Linked DNA regions of Homo sapiens. The protein of the gene in region 7 purifies or fractionates together with the protein of the main gene of each other region. This does not show direct contact. Each region holds a gene or a part of one and is shown on either strand. Other genes may lie near its edges. The genes, in order: PNP, PPP2R2A, EPB41, UBA1, RNH1, EPB41L3 and KDM4C.

The links.
Region 1: the proteins of KDM4C (region 7) and PNP purify together in Homo sapiens (affinity purification with mass spectrometry; one large-scale study listed by BioGRID and IntAct). This does not show direct contact.
Region 2: the proteins of KDM4C (region 7) and PPP2R2A purify together in Homo sapiens (affinity purification with mass spectrometry, with the first as the bait; one study listed by BioGRID). This does not show direct contact.
Region 3: the proteins of KDM4C (region 7) and EPB41 purify together in Homo sapiens (affinity purification with mass spectrometry; one large-scale study listed by BioGRID and IntAct). This does not show direct contact.
Region 4: the proteins of KDM4C (region 7) and UBA1 purify together in Homo sapiens (affinity purification with mass spectrometry, with the first as the bait; one study listed by BioGRID). This does not show direct contact.
Region 5: the proteins of KDM4C (region 7) and RNH1 purify together in Homo sapiens (affinity purification with mass spectrometry, with the first as the bait; one study listed by BioGRID). This does not show direct contact.
Region 6: the proteins of KDM4C (region 7) and EPB41L3 purify together in Homo sapiens (affinity purification with mass spectrometry; one large-scale study listed by BioGRID and IntAct). This does not show direct contact.

The regions. Positions count from the first base shown.
Region 1 is NC_000014.9:20,472,406-20,474,997, forward strand, and holds part of PNP (purine nucleoside phosphorylase), read left to right. Parts: coding exon 1-72; intron 73-2,066; coding exon 2,067-2,170; intron 2,171-2,367; coding exon 2,368-2,543; intron 2,544-2,592. UniProt on the Homo sapiens protein: Catalyzes the phosphorolytic breakdown of the N-glycosidic bond in the beta-(deoxy)ribonucleoside molecules, with the formation of the corresponding free purine bases and pentose-1-phosphate.
Region 2 is NC_000008.11:26,357,508-26,361,007, reverse strand, and holds part of PPP2R2A (serine/threonine-protein phosphatase 2A 55 kDa regulatory subunit B alpha isoform), read right to left. Parts: intron 840-3,500; coding exon 727-839; intron 35-726; coding exon 1-34. UniProt on the Homo sapiens protein: Substrate-recognition subunit of protein phosphatase 2A (PP2A) that plays a key role in cell cycle by controlling mitosis entry and exit. Involved in chromosome clustering during late mitosis by mediating dephosphorylation of MKI67.
Region 3 is NC_000001.11:28,987,569-28,991,068, reverse strand, and holds part of EPB41 (protein 4.1), read right to left. Parts: coding exon 3,164-3,500; intron 1,714-3,163; exon of another isoform or gene 1,634-1,713; intron 1-1,633. UniProt on the Homo sapiens protein: Protein 4.1 is a major structural element of the erythrocyte membrane skeleton. It plays a key role in regulating membrane physical properties of mechanical stability and deformability by stabilizing spectrin-actin interaction. Recruits DLG1 to membranes.
Region 4 is NC_000023.11:47,196,829-47,200,328, reverse strand, and holds part of UBA1 (ubiquitin-like modifier-activating enzyme 1), read right to left. Parts: exon of another isoform or gene 3,339-3,500; coding exon of another isoform or gene 3,305-3,338; exon of another isoform or gene 2,127-3,304; coding exon of another isoform or gene 1,974-2,126; intron 1,939-1,973; exon of another isoform or gene 1,873-1,938; intron 1,527-1,872; coding exon 1,410-1,526; intron 1,282-1,409; coding exon 1,223-1,281; intron 1,121-1,222; coding exon 952-1,120; intron 850-951; coding exon 715-849; intron 1-714. UniProt on the Homo sapiens protein: Catalyzes the first step in ubiquitin conjugation to mark cellular proteins for degradation through the ubiquitin-proteasome system.
Region 5 is NC_000011.10:494,015-497,242, forward strand, and holds the end of RNH1 (ribonuclease inhibitor), read right to left. Parts: intron 1,040-3,228; coding exon 869-1,039; intron 765-868; coding exon 677-764; 3' UTR 501-676; downstream 1-500. UniProt on the Homo sapiens protein: Ribonuclease inhibitor which inhibits RNASE1, RNASE2 and angiogenin (ANG). May play a role in redox homeostasis. Required to inhibit the cytotoxic tRNA ribonuclease activity of ANG in the cytoplasm in absence of stress.
Region 6 is NC_000018.10:5,533,998-5,537,497, forward strand, and holds part of EPB41L3 (band 4.1-like protein 3), read right to left. Parts: intron 1-3,500. UniProt on the Homo sapiens protein: Tumor suppressor that inhibits cell proliferation and promotes apoptosis. Modulates the activity of protein arginine N-methyltransferases, including PRMT3 and PRMT5.
Region 7 is NC_000009.12:6,984,973-6,988,472, forward strand, and holds part of KDM4C (lysine-specific demethylase 4C), read left to right. Parts: intron 1-1,352; exon of another isoform or gene 1,353-1,371; coding exon 1,372-1,694; intron 1,695-3,500.

The DNA.
Region 1 (2,592 bases), on a different chromosome or scaffold from region 7:
GTCTGACTGATAAATTAACTCAGGCCCAGATCTTTGACTACGGTGAAATCCCCAACTTTCCCCGAAGTACAGGTACTGGCAAGGGAAAGTGGGGAATGGGACTGAGGGATGTTCTTGGAATTCTGTGGAACACAACCAAGGAGGCCAATGTTTCTACTCCTTGACCTAGCATTTCACTGAAGACAAATGTTGTAAGAGAGGAGAAAAGCCCACCATGAGTCAGAGTGACTTTAGGAGATGCCTCTAGCAGACATCCCATAAGAGACAGGACATGTGTGTGTCAGTGGACTGAGGCTAAGACTCAGAAGAGGGCCAGGTGACAGGGGCCAAGTAAAGGGCAAGGGTTGTTTATTTGGTTTACGTAATTTCTCAAATAACTAACTTCTGTTGGTTTATTTATTAATTTTTAAGATTTCTATCTTCTTTTCCCTGGAGAGTTAAGAATTTTTTTTTAAGACCTGTCAGCAGGAAAAGACCTTTAATAGCTATTTTTTTAAACTCTTTAACACAAGACTGGAAGAGCAGAGGGAGAAGGTGAGGGAAATATTAACAGAGGGTGTGTGAAGGGCATACTTCTCTAAGGGAGATAGTAGTGACGCTGGCTCCACTGGCCACTCCTACCCCCAGTGAGAAGGGCACTGCATTAAATGATAAGTGGGTTAGTTTTTTTAAGCTTATCAACATGTTTATTTTTTATACTCCACTTGGGTTTCCTTTGTCAACTTTATTACTGTTTTTGTTTTGTTTTTTTGCATAAGCTCCTCTATCTTTGAGAATTTCTCAGCTCTTCCTCTTGGTTCTAGTCCCTCTCCCATTCCCTAAGGGATAGGTTGGCCGTCTATTAGAAGTGACTGCCAGATAAAAGAAATGGTAATAATGGCTGTTATGTCTGTGGGGAGTTATCTTTGCACTCCCACGCACCCCTCCGTGGGCATGTGTTCCCATAGGACTGTTCCGTGGGTCATAAGGAAAGAGACACTTGCATGCGTTCAAATTCTTTCCCCCTTGTTCAGTAGCCTCTTCTTTAAGAAGCCAGAGTAAGTATACTATGAGCTTGCTTGCTGGACTGAGGAGGCAGGTAATTAAGTTAGGGCAATAGATAAGAATACATGTTTTGAGAACTTTGAAAAATTTGAAGAGGTCTATAATTACTGCATTCACTGTACTCACTTTATTTTGAAACAGAGTCTCGCTCTGTCACCCAGGCTCGAGTGTAGTGTTGTGATCTCGGCTCACTGCAACCTCCACCTCCCAAGTTCAAGAGATTCTCCCACCTCAGCCTCCCGAGTAGCTGGGATTACAGGCATGTGCCACCACACCTGGCTAATTTTTGTATTTTTAGTAGAGATGAGGTTTCACCATGTTGGCCAGGGTGGTCTTGAACTCCTGGCCTGTTGATCCGCCTGTCTTGGGCTCCCGAAGTGCTGGGACTACAGGTGTGAGACACCGCACCTGGCCTATTTTTAATTTTAATTTTTATAGATTTACAGGGGTACAATGCAGTTTTGTTATATGGATATACTGCGTGGTGGTGACGTCTGTGCTTTAGTGTAACCATCACCTGAGCAGTGAACATTGTACTTATTAGGTAATTTCTCATCCCTCATCCCCATCCCACTTTCTCACCTTTCCGAGTCCCCAGTGTCTATTATTTCACTCTGTAGGTCCATATGTACACATTTGGTTCCCACTTATAAGTGAGAACATGTAGTATTTAATCTTCCATTTCTGAGTATCTACTTTTTTTGCTCACTTTTTACTCTCTGGCAGTATGGCTTGTATTATCTTGAAATTTCTTTAAAAAGCCCTTCCTTCTTTGTGTGTTCATGCTGAACATGCTGAACGCACCCCATATCTCTAATCTTGGGTTGTATTTGTATAATTATTAGTAATGCCTGGCTCTCTCACCAGACTTAAACTTTCTGAAAGCAGAGATAATAATGAGTCTTTTACTTAATTACAACCTAACATTTTGAGCAGAGCGAGTAACTCACAGTAGGTGCTTAATGGATATGTGTTGCATGAAAATATAATCCCATTCATTTCTCTTTCTGTTTTGTATACAGTGCCAGGTCATGCTGGCCGACTGGTGTTTGGGTTCCTGAATGGCAGGGCCTGTGTGATGATGCAGGGCAGGTTCCACATGTATGAAGGGTACCCACTCTGGAAGGTAAGTCAGAGGGATAGGTCCGGTTGGATCTGGAAGAGGCAGGAGAGAACTATCTAGCCTCTTTCACTACCTAGCTATCTGGGCTAGGTGGATTTTTGGTCCTCTCCTTCCTTTTCTTTCACGATGTATGTCATGCATTTCAGTGTAGCTGAATTAATGAAATTTTGTAAATTTTTTTCGGATTGTTTGCTTCGAAGGTGACATTCCCAGTGAGGGTTTTCCACCTTCTGGGTGTGGACACCCTGGTAGTCACCAATGCAGCAGGAGGGCTGAACCCCAAGTTTGAGGTTGGAGATATCATGCTGATCCGTGACCATATCAACCTACCTGGTTTCAGTGGTCAGAACCCTCTCAGAGGGCCCAATGATGAAAGGTATGTATGTTACTCCGTTTTTTTTAGGTGGGTAGGATTTAAAGACTTC
Region 2 (3,500 bases), on a different chromosome or scaffold from region 7:
CAACCATTAGATCCATAGGCCTAAAGACTGGCACCTGTCAATAAGACACATGAAAAACAGAAATTACAAAAGGCTCAGTTTCAAATAGCAATTAAGATTCAGAAAACTTCATTATTTCAGTTTTTGAGAACATAAAATAGAACAATATTACATAGATTTAGTTTTAAAAAGCAACTGATGTTGATCCTTTCGAGTGCTGAAGAAAAAATGAACAATGTGGATAATATATCTTCTTTTACTGGTTGCAATACTATTAGAATTTGCAGTTCTTAGTTTCAATATTTTGCTTGAAAGACATGCCAAGCTAATAAATGTTTATGGTTCAGATTAAAGAGGCTAAAAAGAAAATTAACCCATAACATCTAATTCTTGGTATTTTTTAGCTACAACTAGAAGATTTGATCTGTATCTACTTTTTTGATTTCCAAAGAAAATTTATCTTGAAACTTGACCTTGTGATAGCTAACATGACAAACCAGAGATGAAGTCTGATGGCGTGAAATACTGTCTTGTGCTTGAGTCCTGCTTCTGTCCCTGGCCAAAGTGAGACCTCTATGTAGGTCAGTTTCTATGTTTAAATGAGTTACTCAATGTCCTACCTGATTACAGAATTACTGGGAAAGGGGAGATAGACTGTAATTATTCCTATTCAAGCTCTGCTCAGGATTTGGGCTATATAATATGAATACAAGCACTATCTGTGACATTTTTTTCTTATGTACTTACTCGTAGTGTAGTAACTGTAGTAGGATCTCTATACCTTCCATCCTCCTCTTTCAAGTTATACCCTTCTGGTCTTTTGTCCCTTTCACTGATTTTCCATAATTTTATTGTTTTATCTGGGAAGAAAATAAAGAAAAGTCCTTAAAATACTGAAGAAGAAAAACATTTTAAGGCATTTAAAATATGCTATTTCACATTTCACGTAAAAGGATTCCACGAAAAAAAAAAAAACCCTAATCTGAACTTACTAAAAAATTTCCTATTATCAGCTGAATAACATACACACATGGAAATAAAGTGCAAAGATTGGTGGCACTCATAAATTCCATGTGATAGTCAAATCAAGTCACAGACAGGTCTCTATCCCTGTCCCTTAAAAGTAATTAAAGCTAGAGGGAAAAACTTGATATGCATGTGTGGTGTATGCAAACACATATATGTCTGTACCTACATGTAAACATATACATGTTCAGTACTGAATTTTAAAAAATTTAAAGGGAACAATGAAGTTGATTAAGACTGCCTATTATGTAGAATCAAAATAGTAAAGCTGCTCTCCCTTGCTCCCACTTCTTAGCAGAGCCTATCAAAGATTCCACAGAGGCCTCCATAGGACTGGATGCCTCCTTTTTAAAACCTTTCCCCTTCTTGTATCAGGGTTCACAAGTAGGAAACAGGGCCTGAAGAAAACTGATTAAAAGCATACATCCCCAAGTCCTTCAAGAAGAAACCAAATTCCTAGGTATCAAGGATATATAAAATGGCATCTGTTTAAAAACAAACTTTTGTTTTACAATTAAGTTTAGATTTACAGAAAGTTACAAGAATTGCAGTGTTCCATATATCCTTTACCCAGTTTCTTCTGTCAACATCTTACGCAACCATGGTACGTGTGTCAAAACTAAGACGTCGACTTTGTATATTACTATTAACTACAGACTGCATTTGGAGATTTAACCAGGTTTTCCACTAACATTCCTTTTCTGCTCCAGAATTCAAACAACACTGCATTTAGTCATCAAGTTTCCTTAGTCTCTCTGCCTTTAAGTTTCTCAGGCTCTCCTTATTTTTCTTGATCTTGACAGTTTTGAGTAGTGGTGGTGAGGTACTTTGTAGAATATCCCTCAACTGGATTTGCTTGCTCTTTCCTCATGATCAGACTGGGACCATGGGTTTTTAGGAACAGAACAGAGAGATGAAGTGACTTCTCACAGCATTGTTCAAAGGGATACATGGTATCAACATGACTTACAGCTGGTGGCGTTAACTTGGGTCATTTGGTTAAGACAATGTTTGCCAGGCTTCTCCACTATACAATGACTCTTTCACCCTTGCCATATTCTGTTCTTTGGAAGTGAGTCACTAAATCCAGCCTGTACTTAAAGGGAGAAATAAGTTATACTCCCTGTAGGGAAGAGTATGTATCCACGTCTTATTTAGAATTCTCCTGCAGGAAGCATCCCTGCTCTCCATGTATCCATTCAATTGTTTATTTGTATCACTATAGGCTCATGCATGTTGATTTAAAACTGTTACAATTGTATAACAGTTTTTCTTATAGAAAAGCATACATTCCTAACGATCTTTCATAAGCAAAATGGTGTAACAAAATTGTTTATAACAGTATATAAAGCCATTTTATAAAAACAGAAACAACTCAGAGAGATGCCAGTGACTCTAGCCTGGCAGTCTCTGTATCGTACAGAAGAATGATAGTTGCCCCTAAGGATGCCCTTCCCAATGATGAAGTGTAAACAGAGAAAAACTGCTAACTTTAATCATCTGTAATCTATTATTTCTTCTAAGCCCTATGTGACCTTGCTTATAATTTTCTTGTAGTTCAGTCATACAGATTTTCTATGTGTTATTTAGTTTATATATGTATATGATTTATAGATAGATATGAGCCTAGCCTAAATCTGTATTCTGAGAAGTATTTGTTCTAAATACTTGCAAAGTATTTGTGATGAGGATGACAACACCCCCGCCCCCTGGTCCAGTTGTCTTGTGGCCTGTTTAAATCCATCCTCCTTATTAAAGATCCAAATAAAGAAACCACAATGTATTTATGAAACTTTCAGATGAGATAAAATTAGTTTGTGGTGCCTAATAGTGTTTACAGGAAGAAAGCTCTTTAAAAAATGTTTTTTCCTTAACACAAACACAGGACACATATGAATTAGGATACATTTTTCAGTAAGGTGGGGACAAGGCAGGCAGGAAATAAATCAGTATGTTAATAAATATGACATAAATTTTTAAAAAATCAGAATCCTTATGTTCTACAGCAGTGATATTTTATTACCTGGAGTTTTTGGCCCATAAGACAAAGTATGTGAGAATAATCAAACTCCATAAAACTGTATGTGAGATTATGTAAAAACACAGTTTTCAGTGGAGACGTTATTAGATTCTCAAGATCTGTTCCTTCCAAAACGACCACACTGTGGTGTTCCCCTGAATTATCAACACTAATAACTAAAGCATTGGAGAAACTGCAGAAGAACAGAGTTCCTCTCACCACAAGCAGAAGGTATGAGAGGTATGAGCAGGGAAAACCACGCTGCCGTTTCCTTTGTGGGAATGCAGCTTTATGTAAGACCCTAAAAAACTTATCAAGAAGTTGTTAAGACACACCCTATTTATGAGTGAACTTTACATTATTCATATATGTAACACTCATGGTTGACAGGTCAGTTTCATGTTTTCTGCAATGTAGAGGAATTAATGAGAATTCAGAGGAGCAAAAGAAGATTAAAGAGAAAGAGAATTAAAAT
Region 3 (3,500 bases), on a different chromosome or scaffold from region 7:
ACGACTCTGATCCACAAGGTTTTGACTATAAATATTAGTTTCCAAAAGGCCTAAAATAGTTTGTTCTTTTAAATAATATCTCCTTGAAATTTTACTAACAATATCGTTTCTTTTTCTCCACATGAAGACAAATAACCTACGGACAATTTATTTCAATTCGGAATTAAATCTTAATGAATGAGATTTTAGTTAAATCTAAAATTAACTGTCCATCATCTGTGTCAACTTGAGTACGAATCTATGAACTTTAGACAATGCAGACAAGTTCTGATTCAAATGTTAACTAAAACAAGATATGGATTTTCCCCTATATAAAGCTGAAGGAGAAAAAAGCAGTTAAAAACCCCTTGAGGCCAGGCACAGTGGTCATGCCTGTAATCCCAGCATTCTGGAAGGCTGAGGCAGAAGGATTGCTCGAGTTCAGGAGTTCAAGACCAGCCTAGGCAACAAAGCAAGACCGTCTCTACCAAAAAATTTAAAAATTAGCTGGGCATGTGGCATGCACCTGTAGTCCCAACTACTCAGGAGACTGAGATGGGAGGATAGCTTGAGCCCGGGAGGTTGAGGCTGTAGTGAGCCATGATCACACCACTGTATTCTAGTCTGGGTGACAGAGAGAGACCCTGTCAAGAAAGAAAGAAAAAAAGAAAATAAATAAAGAGGGGGAAGGAGGGAGGGAGGGGAAAGGAGGGAGGCAGAGGAAGAGAGGAAGGGAGGGAGGGAGGGAGGGAGGGAAGGAAGGAAGGAAGGAAGGAAGGAAGGAAGGAAGGAAATTTGAAAAACTCTTGAAAGTACCAGGCTTCCTGAAAGATAATGTAATTTTTTTTTTTTTTTTTTGAGATGGAATCTCGCACTGTCACCCAGGCTGGAGTGCAGTGGCGTGATCTCGGCTCTCAGCAAATTTTCCTGCCTCGCCTTCCGAGTAGCTGGGACTACAGGTGCCCGCCACCACGCCCAGCTAATTTTTTGTATTTTTTGTAGAGACAGGGTTTCACCATGTTGGCCAGGATGGTCTCAAACTCCTGACCTTGTGATTCGCCTGCCTCAGCCTCCTAGAGTGCTAGGATTACAGGTGTGAGCCACTGCGCCCGGCCGATAATGTAATTTAATTCTTTTGGTATTCCTAAAATAAAATGTTATTAAGATATGAATGGTTTCTTTGCCTTTACTGTTTGTGTTTATTTACTAGCTAACATTCATTGAGTATTTATTAAATGCCAGGCAATGTTTTAAGAGCTTTTACCGGTTTCACTCTTTTAATCCTTTCAATCCCAAATGAGGTGGATATTATTATCCCCATTGTACAGAGGAGGAAACTGATAAAGTGAAAAGTGTCACTTTTCTTCGATTTGAACCCTCTAGTCGGATTCTATAGCTTGCATCTTAACTATTACAGAACATAGTAAATCTTGTTTTCAACCTTGTTTCACTAACAGCAAGTGTGCAATTATAATTTTATCCTAAATTTTACCCTCAGCACTTTGAATATACAAGTAATAGTTCTAGAAATACATGTAATATTCTAATAAGACTCTAATAAAACTATGGAGTCCAAATCTCAGACCTATAATAGAAACATGTAGGACTTTTACTTTTTTCCCCCCAACACTGTCAGAGTTCTAGAAGGACTTACACTTTTAACGATGCAGATAATATTCACATGCTTCAGAAATAAGAAGACTCTGAAAATAATTCTTAATTGTAATGGTGAGGCTGAAAATAAATGACATTCTCAGAAAATAGTCTGAGTTACAGTACTAATGTTTTCCCATTTTTTGGGACAAATAAACTCACAACTCGTGTTTAGTTTAACAACACTATGTCACAATTAAGGCCCCAGACTAATATACATTACACAGGTGATAGAAAGAGCTAGACTTCCTCATCTGTATCTTACACTCTGTGGCAATATGCTCTAGTTAAAGAAGATGATCAAAATAAGGTAGACATGACTTGAATCTATCACATACCTTCAAAGGGCTTGAATTCATCACACAGCTTTTAGGAAGATTTACGTAAAAGAACCACATCTGCTGATAACCGTCCTGTTCCTAATAATTCCACAAAAATGAACTCTAAACCATCTCATCTTTCTTTTCCTCTCTCATGAGAAATCTTCAATTTGTTCCATTATTATAATAAAATGATATATGGGCTGAACACATTGATTTGATACTTTTTTTTTCTCTACTATTCTTTGATTTATAAACAGTAAATGGACAGGCATGGTGGTACACACCTGTAATGCCAGCTGCTCAGGAGGCTGAGGTGGGAGGATCACTTGAGCCCAGGAGTTTGAGATTAGCCTGGGCAAAATAGCAAGACCCTTTAATACATATAAAGTGTAAGTAACTGTTTAAAAAGTAAGTTTCCAATGACTACATTAATTTTTTTAGAGTAGAAACTATAAGCCGGGCATGGTGGCTCACGTCTGTAGTCCCAGCACTTTGGGAGGCTGAGGTGGACAGATTACCTGAGGTCAAGAGTTTGTGACCAGCCTGGCCAACACAGCAAAACGCTGTCTCTACTAAAAATACAAAAATTAGCTGGGCATGGTGGCCAGCGCCTGTAATCCCAGCTACTCGGGAGGCTGAGGCAGAAGAATAGCTTGAACCCAGGACGGGGAGGTTGCAGTGGGCCGAGATCACACCACTGCACTCCAGCCTGGGTGACAGAGCAAGACTCAGTCTCAAAAAAAAAATAGAGTAGAAACTATAAAGCTTTATGATGCTACTTATCACTATCAATGCCTAAGTCAACTAGCTAGTAAGAAATAAAACCAAGTACTTTTTTTATCCCCCCGTTGTTGAGACGGAATCTCATCCTTGTTGCCTAGGCTGGAATGCAGTGGCACGATCTCAGCTCACTGCAGCCTCCGCCTCCCGAGTTCAACTTCTCCTGTCTCAGCCTCCTGAGTAGCTGGGATTACAGGCACCCGCCATCAGGCCCGGCTAATTTTTGTACTTTTAGTAGAGACAGGGTTTGGCCATGTTGGCCAGGCTGGTCTCGAACTCCTGACCTCAGTTGATCCGCCTGCCTCGGCCTCCCAAAGTGGTGGAATTACAGGCATGAGCCACCGCGCCCAGCCCAAATACTCTTAAATGAAAAATAAAGTGTATAACCTGCCTTCCTTTGCCCACCTCCCATATCCACACATCCTTACCTGTGTTTCTGCACTGCTTAATGAATGAAGATCCAAAGATGGGTCTGTTTTGAGTTCCGGTTCAGGAGCTGCAATTGGGGCCTTTAAAATGATCTCTTCATCAAGACTGGTTCCAAATTCTATCTCTTTCTGACCTCCTTCACCTTTTTCTTTATCTGACTCTACTTCTTTGCCTTCTTCCTCGGACACCTGAGATTTGGGCCTTTTGAGAAACGAGGAGAATAGTCGTGAAAGTCCTCTGCTTTCTGATGTCCGCTCCTTGTTCTTGGTCAAGTCTTCATGTGTAGGAGTGTCTCCATTAGAAGCTTTCAGCTTCTGTTCACACCAATTATCTCCT
Region 4 (3,500 bases), on a different chromosome or scaffold from region 7:
GTCCTTATATGCCAGCTGCAATTCCACGTGTTTAACCCTCACAAAAAGTCCATGAAGTCAGTGCTGCTACCACGCACTGACTACAAACAGGAAAACAAAGGTACAGGAGATGAAACAACCTGCTTGAAGTCACACTACCAAGGCTGGAGGCCTGCAGCAAGGCAGTATGGCTCTACAGTCTGTGCCCACAACCACTATGCTGTACTGTCTGTACACATCTTCCCCACTTGAAAAGGCGGGGCCAGGCCGGGTGCGGTGGCTCACACCTGTAATCCCAGCACTTTGGGAGGCGGAGGCGGGCGGATCACAAGGTCAGGAGATCGAGACCACCCTGGCTAACACAGTGAAACCCCGTCTCTACTAAAAATACAAAAAAAAATTAGCCGGGCGTGGTGGCAGGCGCCTGTAGTCCCAGCTACTCGGGAGGCTGAGGCAGGAGAATGGCGTGAACCCAGGAGGTGTAGCTTGCAGTGAGCCGAGATCGCGCCACTGCACTCTAGCTTGGGCGACAGAGCAAGACTCCGTCTCAAAAAAAAAAAAAGAAGAAAAGAAAAGGCAGGGCCAGGGGCTAACTGCTGCCTGCATACTCTAGTCCCCCAGCACAAAACCTGACATTCAGGCCGACCCATTAAATCAATATTGAACACTACTGAATAAACCAGAGATGGGCTCTGAGAAAACTGGGCAGAAGGCTGGGTAGTACCCCCAAGATACCTGGAAACCACTAAGGAAGTCCTCAACGAGGGGTCCAGTGTAGGCAGTGACAGGCACATAGCTGTTGAGCTCAGCGAGGCGGGGCTGTGATACCTCGGCCCGGTTTTTACCGATGTCCTCCTCCCGCAGGTAGAACTGTAAGGGTGTGCAGTAGGGAAAAAGATGAAATGGCTGTGGCACCGGGAACAGTGGTGCCTCGGGAAGGGGGAAAGGGGGAAGGGTGCTAGGAAGAGGTACCTGGGAGGAAAGATCAGCCCACTGGGCAGTGCCCTGGTCATGTAGGGTAACAGCCTTGACCCCACCAAGGATGATGTTCTTAGCGATCTCCACGCCCAGGCCCCGCAGGCCTGATACCAGGACACTGGATGTCTGGAGCCGCTTCATTGCCTCATGGCCCAACACATACCTGCCAGGTTAGGGGGTACTCTAGGTCAGGGCCTGCCCCACCCAACCTTATCCTCTCAATGTCCCATTCCACACCCCTCAGCCCGGCCTTGGCCCCACTTACAGCTGCCGGGAGTAAAGGCCCTCGTCTATGTCTGCTTCACTGCCGTTCTTGGCCATTCCCTAGGAATAGAGGAAAAGAACAAGTTTAGGGAGACACACAGGAGTGGAGCATGGATAGACAGACAGTGATACAAAAGACTTTCCCACCCACCACCTCGTCTGCCAGTCTCCACGGAGAGGACACTCACGTTGGTTGGCACCGAGGGCACTTCGGACAACACGGACTGGGCAGGGGAGCAGTTAGAACCCGGCTTTGGATCAGGCCCGGACACGCGACGTTTCTTGGACAGCGGCGAGCTGGACATCTGGAGGAAAAAAAGGTCAGAGGTGACCCTGGAGCACATGGGTACCGTTTTTCTGTTTGTTAGTAGCAACTGTGGGGGAAGGGAAGACTTAAGTATTAGTACCCCCATTTTACAGCAAAGAGGGGACAGGCACAGAAAGGTGAGGACTTGCCCAGGGTAACACAGCTGTCAGACCTAAGATCTGAACCCAGGTGGTCTGATTTGCAAATCCACACTGCTGACCACTAAGCCATTTGCTTCTTCCCAGCCCAGCATAATGAGGGAGAGACTCCAATCCTGGAGTGAAAGGAATGACAAGAATGTACTTGTGTCGAGGTCAGGGGAAGGATGTGGATTCAGGACAGACCTGGTTTCAAATCTTGAGCCTGCCACGCACTAACAGTAATAATTAACCGCCACAGGCCTCAGTTTTCTCACCTGTGAAACAGGGGTGATAATACCACTTACCTTCCCCACGGGGTTATCGAGATGATAAATAACACAGAGCATAGAACCTGGCACAGAGTAGGTAGGCAGTAACAAGCAGCCATTCTCCTCTCCCTTAATCCCAGGGATGGCGGCGGGAGCGGGGAGTGCAGGAGGGAAGTGAGGCTTGGACATCCATCAGGGTGGCATGATGGCAGGAGCGGTAACTTGCTGAGAACCCAGTCCCCAGAGGGGCTCAAGTTTTATAAAGCCCAACCCTGCCCCCAGCTTTGGGAGGGGAAAACCGACACAGACCAATAAAAGAGGTTGCAAAAAGATAGAAAACAAACACATCCCAAGCCTCATCTGCATGCGGAGTCCCTTAAACAGGTTAACCACAATGATAAATGAGTATTAGATTGATCAGGAGTCCTCCTTGTGCCAGATGCCATAGTAAGCACTTCTCTAAACCTCGTCTCACTCTGTCCTCAGGGTACTCCTGTGGGGTTTGGACTGCTATCAATAATACCCCCAACTTTAAAGTGATGGAAAAAAATTCACTCAGGGACGTTCGGTGACCAAGGTTCCCACACACTGAGCTGGGACCAGACCAGGATCTGCTGACTCTGAAGCCCAGGCTGCTTCCTCGTGTTATCACGTTTCATCCCCTCCATGACCCTGACCCAGCAAGGCAGAGTTTAGTGTCCTTGCCGGACAAATGAGAAGTAACTTGCCCAGGGTCACCTGCTAGGTCCCAGAGACAGAACAATAAAGCCTGCTGTGGAAGTGAAATCTGGTGGTGGGGGTGACTGGGTCCACATGCTGGAGATGGGAGGACCCAGCGTCACTTCCCCTCACCCCAAGTGCTCCTCTAGGCACTGAGTCTTCTGTTCACACAAGTCCTCCCACACTGAGACTTTTATGACACTAAGTATCCCAATGTACCTAAGATTCCATCTTGGCACTTGTCACTAGCACCAACCACAATGACAAGAGCTCCCTACTATCTACCAAGAGCATACTGTGTGTCAATCAAAGAGGAAAGGGCTTTGTCTAATCTTAACAATCCCCATGACCCAGATAACCCTATGCCCAAATCACAAATGGGAAAAGAAAGGCTTAGAGAACCCCATTCACTCGCCCAGAGGCATGCAGCTGGTGGGGGACTGTTTGCCAAATGCCCCTGGGCTCAGGGCCCAGTCCACAGGGCTAAGGAATGGGAGATGAGGGGAGGCAGCAGGCTGGCTGGAGCCCCTGAGATAGCCAGGTGAATTGCTTAGAATGCTAAGAGCCAACCTGGGTAGCAAGAGGCTTGGTGAGTTAGTAGAGACAAAGGTGAACCATATTTTCCATTTACTGACTCTCTGACTGACCTGGGGTAGAGATCTCATTTCCTCTGAGCCTCATTTTCTCCAAAAGCTGGGACAAATGAAACTGTCTTCAAGGGGCTGCTGGCAGGGTTAAAGAAGCCAAGGTCTGTGGTCAGAACTCACTGACCTGAGGATGTGAGTTCCTCCCTGGGCACGTGTAGTGGCCTCTATTACTTAGTTATCTCCTTGCCTTGTCATT
Region 5 (3,228 bases), on a different chromosome or scaffold from region 7:
CAGGGCAGGGCACCCCGGGCTGGCCCACCTTGGTCAGCTGTCCACCCGTGGGCAAGATGGGCTGCCCCATCATCCCACACAGAGCTGGGGCGAGCACTGGGCTCCGGGCAGGAACCCGGGCCGCGCTGGGCCGCGCTGGGCTGGGCTGGGCTGGGCTGGGCTGGGCTGGGCTGGGCTGGGGGGCAGTCAGGGCAGTGCTGGGGGCTCCTGAGGCTCCGGGGTGGAAGCTGCGGGAGCAGCTGGGCCTGCAGGCAGCTCCCAGCAGGCGTCACCCTGCACGGGCAACAGAGCCAAGGGGCATCCCTCCACCCTGGGCAGGGCCTGCCCTGTGCTCCCCAGTGTGGGTGGGTGCAGCTCAGGGGACCCAGCTGAGCACAGCCAGGGCCTTGGGCTGCTTCCCTGGTGCGGGGTCCCTTAGGCAGGGAGAGAAGCCAAGTGGGGTGGTGTCGTCTCCAATGCCAGCGCCTCGCAAGGACCCCAGGAAGGACAAGAGCCTCTCCTGCCAAGAAAGTGCTTTAATGATTATAAAGTGTCCAAAATATACTGGCAGAAATAAGCGGATCTGAGCGTTTCTCTTCAAACCTAGGATATGCAGGGTGAGAGCATGGCAGGGGCTGGTGGGCCCCAGGGTTGCCTCGAGGCCGGTCGTCCAGGGAGAGCAGCAGCAGGAAGAGCCTCAGGAGATGACCCTCAGGGATGGCTTGTCCTTCTCCAGGGCCTGCAGCCGGTCCTCCATCTCCTCAGACCAGTAAATGTCGTACAGGCTGCACACAGGCCAGAAGGGAGGCATGGGCCCGTGTCCTCCCCCACCCCCGCCTTCCTCCCTGGGCAGCCCTGGCCGCACCACCCGCCCAGCGCGTGCACATACACCAGCTGCTCCAGGAGGCAGCCCGGCTGCCGGACGCTCTCCACCAGCTGCAGGATGCCGGCGTCCCCCAGGCAGTTGTTGCTGAGGTCCAGCTCACGCAGGCTGTGGTTGGCCAACAGGGTTGCGGCGAGGCTGCTGCAGCTGCTGTCACTCACATCGCAGTCGGCCAACCTGGGTGAAGCAGGGCGGGGGTCAGGGTGCCGGGCGTGCCTGGCACCGCACTGACCGGCAGAGCAGGCCTGGGCCTGGGGGGCGCGACGGACACCTGTGCTCGGCAACTCAGGACCCTCAGGTGGGGCCGTCCCCAAGGCTCACCGTCCCTGTGGCCCTGGGCAGGTTCCCCACCACGGACAAGGAAGGCACAGACAAGCGAGGCACAAGCAGCCTCACTCGCCTGAGATCTTCTGCAGGGAGGAGAAAGGACAGGAGAGAGATGTCGTCCACCCAGAGAGCCACACCCACCCCCTTGTCACCTCGACACCGTCTGGCTGCGTGGGCTTCAAAGGAGAAGCCAGCCAGAGACTGAGGAGCAGCTGTGGGGAAACGAGGGTATGGAGGGTACCAAGACAAGAACAGAGTGGACAACAGACTTTAGGCTCCAGAGAGAGACAAGAGAACGGGTCAGACAAAAGAGGATGGGATAGAGAAGACCCAACACCCACTTCCCGGGGTGGAGCCGCCACAGGCCGGACAGCAGGGCCAAGGAGTTGCACTGGACCTCTCCAAGGTGGGGGCCAGGGAAGCTGCAGGACCCCCACCCTGTGAGTGGCTCAGGGGGAACAAGTCTGCAGTGACCAGGACCCAAGGTTCCTCTCCACATCTGGAACACCCACAAGGTCCTGGCAGCCAGGATGGTGTCCCCTGGCAGGGAACTGAAAATCCCCCATCAGGAGGAAGCCCTCGAGAAACGCAGCCATGACTCGGCCTGCAGGGCTCACTGTCCAGGGCTCCCGGGCCTCACTCTGCACCTGGTGCCCAGCCCAGGATGACCAGCCACCCACGGAAAGCCCCTGGCGAGAGGCACACGGGAAACAGCAAACAAAAGACAAAACACTGAGGGTGGAAATTCAGTAGACTGGCTGGTAAATGAGAACATCTCCCAAAAATAAAACAAAACATCGAAAAGAAAATTTGGAGAACATAATTAGAGGGTCACTCCACAAGACATCAGGACAGGCTCATGGGCACACCAAAAAAGAAACATAAGAAAGGAGAGAGAAAAAAATCACCAAAGGTATATTTTCTTAGTAGAACCAAGTATCCAGCACAAAGAACCAAGACCCCCATCAAGGCCAAGCACATGGAACCCCTAACACAGTGAACAAAGAGAGCTTGAAAAGCTGCCAACGAGAAAAAGCAGATCGTGCACACAAGGTCACAGTGGCTCACGCCTGTAATCGCAGCACTTTGGGAGGCTGAGGCAGGCTCATCACTTGAGGTCAATAGTTCAAGACCAGCCTGCCCAACATGGTGAAACCCCATCTCTACTAAAAATACAAAAATTAGGCCAGGCGTGGTGGCTCACGCCTGTAATCCCAGCAATTTAGGAGGCCGAGGCAGGCGGATCACGAGGTCAGGATATCAAGACCATACTGGCTAACACGGTGAAACCCCATCTCTACTAAAAGTACAAAAAATTAGCCTGGTGTGGTGACGGGCGCCTGTGGTCCCAGCTACTCGGGAGGTTGAGACAGGAGAATGGCATGAACTTGGGAGGCGGAGCTTGCAGTGAGCCAAGATCGCACCACTGCACTCCAGCCTGGGCGACAGAGCAAGACTCTCTCAAAAAAACAAACAAAATAAAATTAGCCGGGCATAATGGTGCATGCTATACCCGGCTAAATGATCCAAGGACAGAACAGGGGCACAAGACCCCAAAAATTACCTCCTGCAAAACCTTTTCTTAGAAAGCTGCAAAAGAACGTGCTTTAACAAAGAAAACAAATCTGGAAAAACATCCTGACACAGGCGGGGTTCCCGCAAGGGAGAAAGGTGGGCGGGGCTTCCAGGAAGATGGACCACAGGGTGGCCAGGTAGGCTGGAGCTCCGTGAAGCTCTCAGGCTTCATGAAACATGACCTCTGACTTTCAGAGTTAAAATGAGAACTAAGCCAGAGTGGTGCCGCCAGCCCGCCTTTCCCAGTACATGAACATGCACCCTCACTCTCGCCCATGTGCTCACACTCACATGGACACTCGTGCTCACTCTCGCCCATGTGCCACACTCACGTGCTCACTCGCCCATGTGCTCACACTCACATGGACACTCATGCTCACTCTCACCCATGTGCTCACACACGGACACTCGTGCTCACTCTCACCCATGTGCTCACGTACTCTCGCCCATGTGCTCACACACGG
Region 6 (3,500 bases), on a different chromosome or scaffold from region 7:
ACTAAAATACAAAAAATTAGCAAGGCGTGGTGGCGGGCGCCTGTAGTCCCAGCTCCTTGGGAGTCTGAGGCAGGAGAATGGCATGAACCTGGGAGGCGGAGCTGGCAGTGAGCCGAGATCTCGCCACTGCACTCCAGCCTGGGTGACAGAGCGAGACTCCGTCTCAAAAAAAAGAAAAAAGAAAGAAAAAAAGAAACCCAAGCATTCTGAGTCCAAGGCCAGGTTTCTTTGCTCTATGCTAAACATTTTCTTCAACCTTAGTACTATTTATTTATATTATATCTTCTTTCCAGGTTAAACGCTCATTTGACAATAGTGAAGAAGCTGGAAAGTCATTAAGACAAAAGTCGTTAAGACAGTGTGTCTCAAAATGTGGTCCTGGGACCACCTGGATCAGATTTCACCAAAGTACTTGTCGGGACATAAGGAGGTCTGGATCCAACTGCAGATCTATTAGATGATAATCCGTGGATTGGTCCCCAAAAATTCCTTTTTAATAAACTCATCAGGTAATTCTGTTGTATAACCACTGTGTCTCATTCTTTGCAAACCTCTACTGTTATCTGGAGTTTCATACTCAAAAAATTCTGCATTCTCATAGAGGGCCATCTTTTGGATTACGGGTTTTGTGGTGGAATGTCACAAAATTCTACACTCATCCTGAGGGTCATCTTTGGATCTTACAATTACTAAGACATGTCCCTAAAAACAAGCAAAGAGGACAACAGCATATACTACTGAAATGAGAAAACATGTACTATGTGTATACTCTCATTAGACTGGTTCTAGATGTCTTCAAACACAGATCTCATTTCAACCTGGAGGTAGGCAGCATCGTCATCTGTTCACTCTGGGGAACCTTGCCTAGAGAAATAGAGTACTCCTCCCACAGTTACCTAGCTCAAGGTTAGCAGATGTTTCCATCTGTATCTTCTCTAGCTCTTTGTATTTTCTTTATTCTGCAACAAGGATTCCCCACCACTGGGCCAAGGACAGTGGTGGTGAGCGGTGGGTGAGTCAGCATTACCACCTGATCTCCGCCTCCTGTCAGATCAGAAGTGGCATTTGATTCACATTCTTGAGTGAGAATGTGAGAATGTGAACCGCACACGTGAGGGATCTAGGTTGTGCATTCCTTCTGAGAATCTGATGATGTGAAGTGGAACAGTTTCTTCCTGAAACCATCCCCCACAACCCCCGTCCATGGAAAAACTGTCTTCCATGAAACCCCAACCTCTGTGCCAAGGACAGGGCCACACAGCAGGAGGTAAGCAAAATGGAGGTCCTTGGTGCTAAAAAGGTTGGGGACCCCTGTTCTACAATATAACTCCCCCCAATGAATTACTGCTCTCATTTCAAGAATTCAGAGGAAAAGTTTTCCAGACTTCTTGAGCAGACAACCTAGTCAATCTCTATTTTCCAAGTCTTATACTTAGCCAGTAAGCATATTCCTTCTAAAGTTAATAAAAGTTGTCACTGAGTAGCACAAAATGGTATAAAACACCAAAATTCATCAAGAATAATTCTCTGTAATGAAACTACCCAAAACTCCCTATATCTCTGGGATGTTAGTAACTCTAGGAAAAAATTACGTAGAAATATGCAACTGTCCGGGCCAGCCTGAGACCTCTAGATGCCCCGATGGCATCATCTCACAGAAGCCTGGGTGCACCATTCCAGCTAGCACCACCTTCAGGATCATAAAGCTATTCTCCCCAAATTGGTGAATGAAGACTGGATTCCAAGTAAATCCAAGATCAGTCAAAATCATGGGATTGTGAATAACATAACAGAGCAGCCCACATCCCTGACGAGGTGGCATAAAATCTGTGAATGGAATATGACATTTGTTACCATTCTGTTGTTGAGGACGAAGGAAGGGTTGGGAACTCAGAGAGAGATCAAAGGAAGCTTAATATTTTCCATCTCTGGGAGCCCAGTGACCCCGTACACCTACTAAACTATCCCAGACCCTGGATATTTTGATTCTGGAGAGTCTAGTTCAGGTCCAGACTGCTGCATCTGCTGTCCCTCGAGGCATGCCAAGAGGCACATGGGAGAATGATGGGCACCCAGGAACTCAGGTTAGGCTTTGCTGGATGAGCTCGCCCCTCTATAAAGAGATGACATTAAAATCTAAATTTAAAAAAGTCAGGAAATCTATGGTGAAAATTTGCTTGTTTTAGTTTGTTAGAACTCAATATTCACACACAACATTGAGATATACATAATAATCATCAGAGATTTTAATTTTTTTAAATATCCTGTTTTACCACAAGCCTCCTGATGTGTATATTAGAAGAGAGTCATGAAGTGTAGGCAGCAAGCAGAAGGAGGCAGAGGGGCTGGACAACAAGGCTTCACATCAACACCATCATTAAGGTAATGATCCTTTATCAATATTGCACAAGACCAAAAGAAAATATTTATTTACCATTAAAAATAATGATGTGGGTATAGATTTGCATGCATGAAAAAGCTCCTCCGAGACATACTGTTACATTTAAAAAAAAAAAAAATTTGGCCTGGTGCGGTGGCTCACACCTGTAATCCCAGCACTTTGGGAGGCCAAGGCGGGCAGATCATTTGAGGTCAGGATCATTCGAGACCAGCCTTGCCAACGTGGTAAAACCCCATGTCTACTAAAAATTCAAAAAAAAAAAAAATAGCTGGGCAGGGTGGCGGTTGCCTATAATCCCAGCTACTTGGGAGGCTGAGGCAGGAGACTCGCTTGAACCTGGGAGGCTCACTTGAACCCGGGAGGCAGAGGTTGCTGTGAGCTGATATCGTGCCACTGCACTCCAGCCTGGGCAACAGAGTGAGACTCTGTTCTCAAAAAACAAACAAACGAAACAAACAAACAAAAAATGGTTACATAGAAGTATTTAAGACAGAAGTCTATTCATGTAAAATATTATGTAATCTACATATGAGTCTGTATATGTACAAAATGATGCTACTGCTATTTATGAAGCACTTGTGATATACCAGATACTGTGCTCAGTGTTTGCATGTATTACATCATTTAATCCTCATATCCTTCAGATATAAGCATTATGCCCATTTTATAAACGAGCAAACAGGCTCTAGGAAGTTAAAAGAACCATGCCACATAGTTATTAAATAGCAAGGCCGAGAGCCCAACCCAGGTGTGTCCTATTCCACTCTGATACGTAATACATTCAGAAAGGTAGATAATGACATTGCCTTTTTTGGTTTTTCTGTATTGTTAGACTATATTTTAAAGTGAGAATGTATTATTTTTAATATCTCAAATAACTGAGATACATTCATTGAAAGGATAAGGAAAATCTTCCCATATTTCGTATATCTCATTTTCTACCTTAAACAATCCAAAAGTAGTATTTAATCCTCAGTTAAATACTCCCACAAAAAGATGGAATGAATTGCCAAAATATCAATCATTGAGAGAAAAAAACATCACATTCAATTTCTGCAAAATTTTGGATAACTCCATTAACTAAAGACCATCTGTCTCC
Region 7 (3,500 bases):
ATATTTGTTGGAGTTTTTGTATTGTAATAAGCTAATTCCTGTGTTCCTCTCATACTTCTCATCCTGTAAATCCTTCCTCATGGGATTCCCCCCTCCGCCAGAATCCGACTCCCTCTGCTGCTTCCTCCTCACTCATGGCACCATAGCTGTTGCCTGGATGACTGCAGCAATTGCTTCCTTCTTATTCAGGAATGTCAGCTGTAGTCACCCCCGCTAGTCAGTTCTCCAGGTGGCCATTAGAGTGATCCTTTAAAAGAAAAAAAGCTTAGGTCTTGTGACTACCTTCTTCTTAGTATTATTCCACCTATAATAAAAGAAAAAGTCTTCACATAGTCCTAAACTGGTCCTCAGCTGCTACTCCAGCCTCATTGCCTTTGCTCTTGAAATAGCTGTGTGGATAGAGTTTAAACCACAGAACTTTTAAAAAATGAGTTCATGTTTTAGTGGAGAGCTAGGCAAATAACCACATAATTACAATCCAATGTGGTAAGTAGCATTATAGAGATTGCATAGGATGTTGCTGGTTTACCAAGGAAGGACTTCAAACACACAAGAGCTGGATAGCCAAGGTTTCTTGGCAAAGGTGATATCTGAATTGAGTTTTGATGAATGGATATAAGATAGCAAGGCAGAGAAGGTAGGGAAGGGAATTACAACAAATGCAGAATAGAGAGTTAGGCAATACATATGGATATTTCACTATAGTCCCTTTTTTTAAAATTTTTAAATTTTTTTTGAGACAGAGTCTCTCTCTGTCGCCCAGGCTGGAGTGCCGTGGCACAATCATAGCTCCCTGCAACCTCTGCCTCTCAGGTTCAAGCGATTTTTTTGCCTCAGCCTCCTGAGTATCTGGGACTAAAGGTGTGCACCACTATGCCTAACTAATTTTTATATTTTTAGTAGAGCTGGGGTTTCGCCGTGTTGGCCAGGCTGATCTTGAACTTCTGGCCTCAAGTGATCCACCTGCCTTGGCCTCCCAAAGTGCTGGGATTACACACGTGAGCCACCGTGCCCGGCTCCTCATCATGCTTTCTCTTACACTGTGTTTAATTAGCCAGTTTATGAATTGCTGGATGGTTTTGCCTAAGGGCCCTGAATTTCATTAGTTCTGTCACTACATGGTTCTTTGCACATTGATCTCCAGATTTTGAGCCCTGGCATAATACTTGAGTAGAAGAACTGGGTTGTTCAGTATCAGAGCTAGTATGTGATGGGTACAAATGAGGTTTGTTTTGTGTGTGTGCATGTATGTGCATGCGCATGCGTGTGTATGTGTGTGTAAGATACAGAATCATTTGGGAATAGTTTACCAATTCTACTTAGTAGTAATACAGTGCATGATTTATTAACAGTCTTCTGTTTTATCCTCAGGAAACAGCTGCTTAAGTACATCTGTAACAGAAGACATAAAAACTGAGGATGACAAAGCTTATGCATATAGAAGTGTACCTTCTATATCCAGTGAGGCTGATGATTCCATTCCATTGTCTAGTGGCTATGAGAAGCCCGAGAAATCAGACCCATCCGAGCTTTCATGGCCAAAGTCACCTGAGTCATGCTCATCAGTGGCAGAGAGTAATGGTGTGTTAACAGAGGGAGAAGAGAGTGATGTGGAGAGCCATGGGAATGGCCTTGAACCTGGGGAAATCCCAGCGGTCCCCAGTGGAGAGAGAAATAGCTTCAAAGTCCCCAGTGTATGTGGCAATATCCATTTTTTACCATATTCATTATATGGTGAGAGCACATTTTGAAAACAACATGCTGTGCACTGAAATCCTCCTTTAGGGCACAGATAAATAACATTTTACATTTATGGGTCTTAATCATATTCATTCAATAACTGGGAGGTAAGCCTCCTGTGAGCTGTGGCTCACATAGTGATAATTTAGCACATGGAGCTTATGGCCACGTGTCGATGCTTGATTTTCTTTTTTTTGTTAAAAAATTAAACTCTTTACTTTGAGGTAATTGTAGACTCGTATGCAGTTGTGGGAAATAGTGCACAGTGATTCTTTGTACCCTTTACTCAGTTTCTCCCAATGCTACCATCTTAGAAAACTATAGTACAAAGTCACAATCATATCGACATTGATACAGTAAAGATTACAGAATTGTTCTGTCACCTGCAGAAGAATTCATCTGCTGGGCACTGATCACTTTCTGCCAATAGTTAATACCTCCTGGTCCCAGCCTTCCCACAGCTTCTATTTCAGTGTCAGGACTCACGTGGTCATGCTTTCTTCTTACTCTTTCCTCATGGACCCTGAATCTCAGGACCAGGGTGACCTTTCTTGTCCTGCCCCCTCCTCGAAAGAGGCCCTTTGCCTCTGAGAAAAGACTCCTCTATATTATTTAGCTTCCCATTGTGACTTTTTGGAAAATTGTACAATATTGTCCTTGTACAGTATTAATATTCCATATTCAGTAGAAACTGTCCATGTAGCCATAAGAGTGGATCAGGGGAGCTAGGACTGTCTGTAGCGATTGTCAGAATTCAGTACTTTTTTTTGATGTATCCAGCCTGATTAGGGAATTCAGGTGGATCAGGAAGGAGTAATTGTTTGAGCTGATAGGTTGCGCTGGCTGCAGAACAGACACTGCTCCTGCTGGTTTCAACTCAAAATAGATCCTTGTGTCCCTGAGTAGGAGCAAGGGAGGTTGTATAAGGACAGCAGCTTTGAATACCTTGCGTCTTATCAGTCTTAAAATGTTAATTAAAATATACTTTTCTGATTTGACCCAATAGTGTTTATCTTTTTATGTAGAATTGTATATCTCATTGAATTATAAACACATCAAAAATATGAAAGATAAAAAAAATATGGTCTGGTTTCTTTGAAAAGGTGCCTAAGAGTAGTTTGAAAATAGCATTCACATACTAATAAGCAAAATTTACAACTTTGGCCAAATGTGGTGGCTTATTTCTGTAATCCCTGCACTTTGAGAGACTGTGGTGGGAGGATCCCCTCGAGCCCAGAGGTTCGAGATGAGCCTGGACAACATGGTCACACCCTGTGTCTACAAAAAAAAAATAAAAAAAAATTTAGTGGTGTGTGCCTGTGGTCCTAGCTACTAGGGAGGCTAAGGTAGGAGGATCACTCGAGCTCAGGAATTCAAGGCTGCAGTGAGCTGTGATCCCACCACTGCACTCTAGCCTGGGTGACAGAGTGAGAGACCCTGTCTCTTAAAAAAAAAAAAAAAAAAAAAAAAAAGGAAAAAAAATTTGCAACTTAATTTCATGAATGGCTTAAATGTAGCCAAGCAGATATTCATTCTTTGGACAGGTGACTGAGTCAAATGCCTGCTTTAGTTATTTTTAGCGACCTTCTTTAAAGTAGAATGGAGCTGAAAGTAATTCTCAGATTTCTTTGCTCTCAAGGAAGGTGATTATAGATCTAGTGCTGTTTATCTTCATCTTTATCATTTCCCCAAGCAAAGACTGACAGTAGAGAAACCAACATTGCTATTGAAGGCTGAGAGGCTTGGCTTGCCTGTAAGAA